Homo sapiens: one gene and its partners. The protein of the gene in region 2 purifies or fractionates together with the protein of the main gene of each other region. This does not show direct contact. Each region holds a gene or a part of one and is shown on either strand. Other genes may lie near its edges. The genes, in order: CENPB, ZNF169 and TWNK.

The links.
Region 1: the proteins of ZNF169 (region 2) and CENPB purify together in Homo sapiens (affinity purification with mass spectrometry; 2 studies listed by BioGRID and IntAct, with this or other methods). This does not show direct contact.
Region 3: the proteins of ZNF169 (region 2) and TWNK purify together in Homo sapiens (affinity purification with mass spectrometry; 2 studies listed by BioGRID and IntAct, with this or other methods). This does not show direct contact.

Annotation. Positions count from the first base shown.
Region 1 is NC_000020.11:3,784,593-3,788,346, forward strand, and holds the start of CENPB (major centromere autoantigen B), read right to left. Parts: upstream 2,149-3,754; 5' UTR 1,892-2,148; coding exon 92-1,891; 3' UTR 1-91. UniProt on the Homo sapiens protein: Interacts with centromeric heterochromatin in chromosomes and binds to a specific 17 bp subset of alphoid satellite DNA, called the CENP-B box.
Region 2 is NC_000009.12:94,265,649-94,269,302, reverse strand, and holds part of ZNF169 (zinc finger protein 169), read right to left. Parts: intron 1-3,654. UniProt on the Homo sapiens protein: May be involved in transcriptional regulation.
Region 3 is NC_000010.11:100,992,699-100,995,033, reverse strand, and holds the end of TWNK (twinkle mtDNA helicase), read right to left. Parts: intron 1,845-2,335; coding exon 1,524-1,844; 3' UTR 631-1,523; downstream 1-630.

The DNA of each region.
Region 1 (3,754 bases), on a different chromosome or scaffold from region 2:
TCTGGCTCCATGCACAGCGGGTGCCCAGAGAGTCCTCTGCCCTGGGGTGGTGCTGCCAATCTAGGTTGGGGGCACAGCTAGGTCCAGTGACTCAGCTTTGATGTCCAAGACCTCGAACTCCCGCCTGCCTGGCGTGGTTCTTCCTGGTCACATGAACCAGATCGTGTTCCAAGTGGAGGATGTGGCTCTGCACGCGGTCATCAATGGGGAAGGAGGTCAGGTACCTCTTGACCATGGCAAAGTAAGCCATGGCCTCCCCAAAGCTGGGTACAGGCACCTCATCACCATCCTCCTCATCATCATCGTCGTCTTCATCTTCATCATCCTCTTCCTCATCGTCCTCTTCCTCACTGTCTGAATCAGAGTCCTCCCCACCTTCCAGGAAATGCAGAGTAGGGCACTGGGCTTCCTCCTGGGCACCATAAGCCCCGAAGCTGCCACCGGCCTCCACTACTCCCTGGGCCCAGTCCTCAGCCTCCAAGCCCTCCGAGGAGCTCTCCTCATCTTCCTCCTCTTCTTCATCACTATCAACATCACCCTCCTCCTCCACCTCCTCTTCCTCCCCCAATTCCTCTCCTTCCCCCCCTTCCTCCTCCTCCTCCTCCCCTTCCTCCTCCTCTTCCTCTCCTTCACCCTCTTCCTCCTCCTCTTCTTCCTCCTCCTCCTCCTCTTCCTCTCCCTCACTCTTGAGGGAAGTGGTGATGGTGGCATTAGGGCCACCCCCAAAGCCAGCCTCACGAAAGCAGGCGGCTATGTCCGAAGGCTCCACTGCCTGCCAGGCGGCAGCCACAAAGTGCAGGGCCTCCGTGAGACCCAGCTGCAGGCCTGAGGGATCCTGGCCCTCTAGCGCGGCCATGGCCTTGAGCAGCATGGCCTGGCGGTAGTGGCCCTTCACCTGCTGGACCACTCCCCTCTCCAGCGGATGCACGGTGCCGGGAGGGAAGAAGGCCAGCTGCACATGCCGCAGGCCCGAGGTGTCCAAGGACTGGGCAGCCAAGCGGCCGGCCAACAGCAGGACCCGGCGAGACTCTGCAGCCATTCGGGTGTCCAAGGCCTTCAAGTACTTGGCCAGGGCCTGGGTGGTGACACCACCCTTGGAGTTGGCGGTGTAGTCGCAGGGCAGGCCGGCTTGGCCTGCGCGGGGCTTGGCCGACTTGCCGGCCACCAGCGGGGGCAGCTTCTCGCTGCCGTCGGCATTGGCGCATAGCAGGACGCTCAGGCGCTGGGTGGCTTGACGCGGCCGTCCGTCGCCTCCGCACAGCCCCGCGGCCTGGTCGGGCAGGAAGTCGTACCATAGACTGGTCTCGGTGGCGCTGAACACGTCCTGCGAGGCGTAGCCCTCGGCCACCGACGGCGGCTGCTCCTCCCGAGCGCGCCAACCAGTAGTGCTCCCGCCACTGCCCTCCGAGGGCACCGCGGCCGGACTGGCAGGCGCCGCCGGGGTGCGGGGGGCAGCGTTTCGCGCGCGGGCGCGGGCCACGCCGCTGCAGGACACCACGCCGTGGCGCCGGCGGAAGCGGTCCAGCCAGCCGTTGGAGGCGGTGAAGTCGTCCATGCCCAGCTCCTCGGCTATGCGCAGCGCCTTCTCCTTGAGGATGATGCCCTTGACCGGCAGGCCGGCGGCGCGGATCTGCTGGAACCAGGCGATGAGCAAGCCCTCGAGCTTGTCGTAGGGAGACAGCTTGTTGGTCTTGCGGCAGGTGGAGGCCACCCCGTACTTGCGCTCCGACGCCAGGATGGCGCGCTTGTTCTTCAGGATCGTGCTCAGCGTGGACGGCGGGATGTTGAAGCGCCGCGCGATCTCGCCCTTGCGCAGGTCCGGATTCTCCTCCACCTCCTGGATGATCCGTGACTTCTCCCGGAACGTCAGCTGTCGCCTCTTGGGGCCCATCCCGGCGCGCCCCCCGCCCCGGGGCCCGGCGCCGCCGCCGCCGCCCCGGGGCGGGGGGCCCGGGCCCGTGGCGGGGGGCACCTGGCGGCCTCTCCCGCGCGCCCCGCCCGAGACAAAGCGGCTCGCGGGCGCGGCGGCGGGGCGACGACCCGGCCGGGCCGGGGGCACCTCCGGGGACGCCGGCGGGCGCGTCGCCGGGCGGCGGGCGGCAGGCGACGGGCGCAGACGAGGGCGGGCGGCGCGGGCGCGGAAGGCAGGAAGTGCCGCGGCGCGGGGAGCTGGGAGCGCGGCGAGCGGGGCGGAGCGGGCGGAGCGGGATCTCGCGGGAAGCGCGGGGACGCCCGGCGCCTCCTCCCCGCCCTCCGCGCCCACCCCCTTCCCGCCGCCGGGACATACCGCGGGGGGGCGCTGCGGCCTGCTGGACCTGCCCGTGCTGCGGCCTCCGGCGACCCGGCAGCGACGCGGGCGGGGACGCGGTGCATCGCTACTGCGCCCGGCGGACAGCGACTTGCTGCTCAAAAAGAATAAGAACCAGGGTTTTTGTTTGTTTTTTTTTTTTTTAATTAAGGTAAAAATAACGCACTTTTTTTTTTGCGGAACCTGAAAAATTCAAGAAGTTGAAAAACGCTTTTCACGTCACCTGGAGAGATGCACAGGTAACATTTTGATACATTTCCTTCCAGTCTTTTCTCTAGATGCATGTCGTTTTCTTTTTAAAAATTTATTATATAAAACTGGCATCAGACTGTATAGACTGTATATCTGGCATCTCCTGCTGTTTTACCTGGCATCAAGTAGTGAGAATTTTGCCATATCGGTAAGTATCATTGCCAACACGCTTTTTAATGATTGTGTAGCATTCCAGCTATGAATGAACACTAGCGTATGTAACCTATTGTTACACACTTAAGTTATTTTTAAAATCAGCATTACAGTTGTAAATCTATTTGATGGTGCTAATGACATTTTTAAAGTTCTAGTAATCCCACAACCCATAGATAAACACTCATAACATCTTGGTGTGTCACTTTCTGGGCTTTTCCATGCATATAGCCATAAATGTATGTGTTTGCACTTACAGAAATAACATCATGTATATACATAAGTGTGAATCCCTGAAGCCTCCCTCTCCTGCAGCAAAACATTAAAATGCCAAGCTCTTAAAACAATGAATGTATAGCTGTGTTTTTAAAAATCTCTTAGGGCAGCACTAAGGGGAACTCCAGCATTGGCAGAGGGGAAGGCTGTGACCCAGGGGGACAGGCTGAGGACCTGGGGCTGGATGAAGCTGTGGGTGAGTGTAGACAAAGAAGAAAAGAGGACCAAGGACAGTGCCCTGGGTCCTCCAAGGTTAAGGGCTCAAGAAAGAGGCCAGGTGCAGTGGCTCACGTCTGTAATCCCAGCACTTTAGGAGGCCGAAGCAGGCGGGACCACTTGAGATCAGGAGTTCAAGACCAGCCTGGCCAATATAGTGAAACTCCGTCTCTACTAAAAATACAAAAAATTAGCCAAGTGTGGTGGCACTCACCTGTAGTCCCAGCTATTCGGGAGGCTGAGGCAGGAGAATCGCTTGAGCCTGGGAGGCAGAGGTTGCAGGGAGCCAAGATCATGCCACTGCACTCCAGCCTGGGCAAAAGAGTGAGACTCCATCTCAAAAAAAAAGAAAGAAAGAAAGAAAGAACCAAATAGAGACTCTTGAAGTGGAGGAGCCCCTGAAGCAGGAGAAAAACCAGGCTACTGTGGCATTCTGGAAGCCAAAGGAAGAAAGTGTAACTCACTGCTGTTTTAGTGCAAATTTCTGTTTTCGTATGTTTCTTGGCCATTTGAATCCTGTGAATTTTCTAGTCATATCCTTTGACCATG
Region 2 (3,654 bases):
AGGGAAGCAAGAGGGCTCGCTCATACACCCCCTTTGCATTTTGGTTGAGATCAGGTTTTGAGTTGGTTTTGAGTCTGTTTTGCCTGAGTGCACTCCCCCTTGTGTTGTCCAAAATTTGTCTCCACTTCTTTGTGTATCTGTCTTATTCCTTTTGATACCATGTAAACTTGATAATGGGAGGTATTGGGTTCATTCCTGCTGAGAGGCCTCTGGGAAGGAAAAATTTTTTTTTTTTTAGGAGCTCAATGGTTGACAGTCGGCCTAAATAAAAGCTAACATCCAAGATGTGTATATATATGTGTGCATGTGTGTATGTTTGTATTTAAAAGGCCTTCATGTTTTTGTTTATTTCTTTCCTAAGACCTTGTCTTTTTGAGCAAAAGTTTTTTCTTCTCTGTTGACTGAATTCTGTTTTCTTCATTAATAGCTATTACAACAAAAGCTACTCTGGGGTTTTTAGGAAAACATATAATTTAGACACTTAGAAATGTCTTTGGAAATTTTTTTTTTTTTTTTTGAAATGGAGTCTCACTTTGTCACCCAGGCTGGAGTGCGGTGGTGTGATCTCGGCTCATTGTAACCCCTGCCTCCCGGTTCAAGCAATTCTCCTGCCTCAGCCACCTGAGTAGCTGGGATTACAGGCCCCACCACCCCGCCCAGCTAATTTTTGTATTTTTAGTAGAGATGGGGTTTCACCATGTTGGTCAGGGTGGTCTCGAACTCCTGACCTCATGATCCACCTGCCTCAGCCTCCCAAAGTGCTGGGATTACAGGCGTGAGACACTGTGCCAGGCCAACATTAATAGCACACTAATGTAAAGATGAAATTGGGCTTATTTGGTATAAAAATTATACAGAAAGCACTGTTAAATATGAAATCATGTTTGGCTTTCTTTGGGCTATATTTGTATAAATACATTGTTGGTATGTGTTCCAAAGTTATGGGAAACTCCTATAATTCTATTTTAGTGTATGTTATCAGTAATAATTATAATTGTTATGTTAAATTATTTTGTACCACAGAGTTAACAGATTTCCTTGTCAATTGTGTCTTTAACTATGGCTACCCTAAAACTTTTTGTCATCCATAAACAATTGTCTTGTTTCAGTCCTCTTTAGAAGGCAGTTTTATAGGCTAGACACGGTGGCTCATGCCTGTAATCCCAGCACTTTGGGAGGCCGAGGTGGGCGGATCACCTGAGGTCGGGCGTTCAAGACCAGCCTGACCAACATGGAGAAACCCCATCTCTACTAAAAAAAACAAAAAAAATTAGCTGGGTATGGTGGCACATGCCTGTAACCCCAGCTACTCAGGACGCTGAGGCAGGAGAATCGCTTGAACCCAGGAGGGGCAGGTTGCGGTGAGCTGAGATCACACCATTGCACTCCATCCTGGGCAACAAGAGCAAAACTCTGTCTCAAAAAAAAAAAAAAAAAAAAGAAGGCAGTTTTATAATCAGCTGTAAAGCTCTAACAGGTGCTTTTGAATGCAGGTTTCTGATAACTTTAGAGATTGTGACATCAGAATAGAGGAAAAACGTTCAGGACTCGTGAAGAGCTAAAATGTTCATTAATATCAAGCACAACAGGAATTAACTGCATGAACTGAACTAATAGACTGGAATGACCTTTTTGACATTTTTGCTTAAAATATTGCTAATCCTTTGTTTTGCTTTTCAGTGTCAAGGAAACTTTTCTTCTGAGCTATTAACAGCTTTTAACAATTAAGTGTATGCCCATGAACAAAATTTGGAGCATATTTGTTCCTCTCTACCTGGTTCCTCTAGAATTTGGAAACTATCTGTGAGTATTCTTAATTTATGGCAATACAGTTATTTGCATAAGTGCAATAAGAATCTGTTTTCTTTTGTAACAGGACACAATTGGAAAAACTGGTTGTTTTACCAAGGCTTTAACTGGAATGGTGTGCTCTCCTTTAAGGAATCAAAGTTCACTTATGAAGCCAAGAAAGCCTTTAGAAACTGGCCTCATATTTTGTGTACACAGTCCCTGTACAGGGTTTCTGATCTGTGGTAAGTAAAGAATGTCACTTTCTGACAGTCCATGAACCCCAGGTTACCTTAGAACCTCAAGAGGAGAGGTATTCACCCAACTGATAGGTACTTGATGATACAAATCCATGGCTGGGCGTGGCATTAAAAAGTCTTATCTCAGATTCCTTCTATGAAACAAAGTTCCATCAAAGCCAATTTAAAAAGCCTACATGTTAGCTGGGCGTGGTGGCGCTCGCCTGTAGTCCCAGCTACTCGGAAGGCTGAGGCAGGAGAATGGCGTGAACCCAGGAGGCGGAGGTTGCAGTGAGCCAAGATCGCGCCACTGCACTCCAGCCTGGTGACAGAGTGAGACTCTGTCTTAAAAAAAAAAAAAAGGCCTACACGAAAAATAATTATTCTTTCTGCACTGTATACAAATAATTAGGCCAAGTACAATGAAGCAAACCAGTTCTACCATGATTTATCTTTTAATAAAAATGGGAAACTGGAAAGAGAAAAATTATGTTTCAAAAACTACAGTACACCTGTTGTTAAATTCTAGTTTCACCTGATGTTTTTCAGTTTTTATTATTTTCTACAATTTGGATTAAATTCTAATTTTTCTGTCTACAGGTCTCCAAAATAATGTTTTCAATTTTTTCCTCCTTCTTTTCCTTTTTCCCTATTTTTCCTAATTTGAAACCACTGAAACCTAAGCTGTGCCTTCTTGAAGCCCTGTGAACTGAAGACTAGACAACTTAAACTTCAGAAGAAAACAGTGGCAACCTATTTATATGTGTTGCTGTTGCACACTACTATGTTTCAGCAGGCGCTGCCTCTATGCCCCCAAAACAGAGACTGCTACTGGGAACAAATTGAACTCTTTCACTCCAGCGCTGCGTTCGATGCTCCGTAACAACGACCCCATCTCAGCAGGAAGTAGCCAGAAAGATTATAATGCCCCATCTCCCTACAATTCTTGTGACAAATAAATATACAAGCATGATAGAAATCATGTGCAAATTGACAGTGGGGATTGTGGCAGGTCAGGTCTCACTAAGAACTGTTTCAGTACTGACTGAGTGGTTAAGTTAAATATTAAAAGTCAGTGCCCTTATACAAAGGCTAGGATGTAACAAAAGCCCATCAACAATTTTGCCTAGGCCTTTCCTGAGCCTTAAAGCATGACAAAATAACTAAGAATTTTTTTTTTTTTTTTTTTTGAGACAAAGTCTTTCTCTGTTGCCCAGGCTGGAGTGCAGTGGTGTGATCTTGTCTCACTGCAACCTCTGCCTCCCGGGTTCAGGCAATTCTACTGCCTCACCCTCCTGAGTAGCTGAGATTACAGGCATGTGCCACCATGCCCAGCCATTTTTTTGTAAATAACTAAGGAATTCTTAACAGGACCCATTTAGGATTAAACAAGTTTTATTGTGGGTCTGAAGAAACTCCCTAGGTCTCCACAAACAAGTTTACTGAGGATCTGAGGGAACTCCCCAAGCCTCCATGATTTAGCAGGAGATAAGATAAGGGTAATCACCCCAGCACCTGGACCCACTTAGATTAAATAAATTTACTGAGGCTCCAGAGGAAAGTCTTCAGGACTCAGACCTTAGTTATAGATTAAAAGAAGTTAATCACTTATGTATTTAGATGAAAG
Region 3 (2,335 bases), on a different chromosome or scaffold from region 2:
AGAGGACGAGAGATGAGAAGGTGTCATCATTTAGGAATACTTCTGACAGTCCCTCTGGGTCACCTATTTTACAGTCTCCTCCACGGCTTGTTAAAAATGAGGATTACTGTACCCGTCCTCAAATCCAGAATGAGAAATGTACGTGGTGGAGGATGGGGGGAGAATGGGGCCTAGTTTCTGCATTTTTCACAAGTCCCCAGGAGTTCTGGCACGCATTAGCATATGAGAAACACGGAGAGGGTACAGGAGGGAGATGGATGGGGGTGGACAGAATATGTTGAGTCTAAGTCCACTTGAGAGGTGAGTGGCTCACATCACAGAGGAATGGCCAGTCAGGCAGGGCACTGGGCTCATGTGGCCCAGTGATGAGTACCTGTGCCAGGAATCACTCGAGATCCTCAGGGAAGTTAGGTATGAGGACAGATCATCTTGTCTTCCCTAGGCCAAGAAGAGATGTAAATGGAAGGTGGGGTGTGAAGGCCCTTTAATGTCCCTGCTTCCTTGGAAGCCCACCGCTCAAAGGCTGCAAGCAGTGGGAGGGGACCCGTCCATTCCCAATCCCGAAAGGGAAATTCAGCTACGGACTGGGGAGACACCTGGTGGATGAATAAGAAAAAGCACAGAAACAAAGGCAATGGAAAAATTTTTTAGTAAAACTGGAAAAGGCTCTATAAAATGTCCTGACTCCAGCAGTCTTGAGGCAGCACACAATGGCATCAGTGTCTAGGTGGCAGGCACTCCGGGCTGACAGCTTCCTTCTATGGCTCTATGACCAAGCAACCCAGCCCGAGGCAGCTCCCACCAGTGAGGCCCTGATATTGCAGGGCTAAGCACCTAGGATCCAATTCTAGTACATGCCACCTCATGCTAGGCTCTACAAAGTGGGGAGCAGAGGAGCTTGGTACCCACTGTATCACCCTTTGACTTTGAAAGCCTAGGCTGGAGTTTCGCATGAAGTCCCCGATTCCCCTCCAGGTTCATGCGGCCTGACCTCACTGCCTTGAATCTGACCTGCTCATTCCTACCTCAGGGCTTGGATTTCCTTTTCTCTCTGCCTGGGTCCCCTTCGCCGGATGTTCACGTGGCTCTCTCCTTCTAGTTGTTTAGGCCCCAGCTCACATGCCCTCGGCTCAGAGACACCTTTTCAGACCACTTATCTACACTAGCCTGCCAGCACTCTATCGCATTTCTATTTTCTTTACAGCATTTTTCACTAAAACTAGGTTTTCTGCTAATTTGTTCATTGCTTGCTTGTCTCTTCCGCCAGAATGCATGCAGGCAGGGACTTTATCTCTCTTTTCAGTGCTGTATATACAGGACCTCAAACAAAGCCTGAGCAACACAGTAGTTTCTCAGTAGTCTGCTACATTGAATTTTCTCACTATGGAAACCTGCTCTAGGTTAGGCCCCTCAGACTGAGAAGGGCACACAGCTCAGGACCACAGGATAGAGGAGCCCTTGCAGAGTTTTATGCTCCAGCCTATCCTATCAGGCTCATTTCAGTGACCAGCTCTGCACGGCCTTCACTTTGAACGCTTGGAGGTGTCTGGCTGGTCGGGAGTGGGGGCCTGGCCTGAGCAAATCTCAGAGTTCTGTGTCGTAGCCCCCTTTTTGCCAGAAGAGGGCTTTTTGGCCACTGGTCCAGTGTCATCCTTGATCTTCTTGAGCCGGGCCTTGTTCTTTGGTGGAATGGAGAAGGTGAGGGAGTTCTTGTTGAACTCAAGCGGGAAGACACCTACATCTCCATCAAAGCGGTTCTTGGACACCTGCAGATACCGTTTCCCTGGCCCGGTTACCAGCTTCCTGTCCTGCAGGATCAGAACATTGTCTGCTTCCTGGCTTGCCTGGGGAACAGGGGGCAGAAGGAGGAAAGCAGGAGTAAGAGGACATGAGCAAAGCAGAAAGGGGGGCTGACAGGGCAGGGAGGAGTGATAAGAATGGGGAGAGGGGCTGGGTACAATGGCTCACGCCTGTAATCCCAGAACTTTGGGAGGCCGAGTCGAGTGGATCACGATGTCAGGAAATCAAGACCATCCTGGCTAACACGGTGAAACCCCATCTCTACTAAAAATACAAAAAATTAGCTGGGCATGGTGGCATGCACCTATAGTCCCAGCTTCTTGGGAGGCTGAGGCAGGAGAATCGCTTGAATCCGGGAGGCGGAGGTTGCAGTGAGCCAAGATTGTGCCACTGCACTCCAGCCTGGGCAACAGAGCGAGACTCCGTCTCAAAAAAGAAAAAAAAAAAGAGAAAGAATGGGAGAGGGAAAAGTACTTCCCCCCATGACCAAAGCTCTTTGAACTACTGACCACGATGCTGGGGCCACTCAAATCTT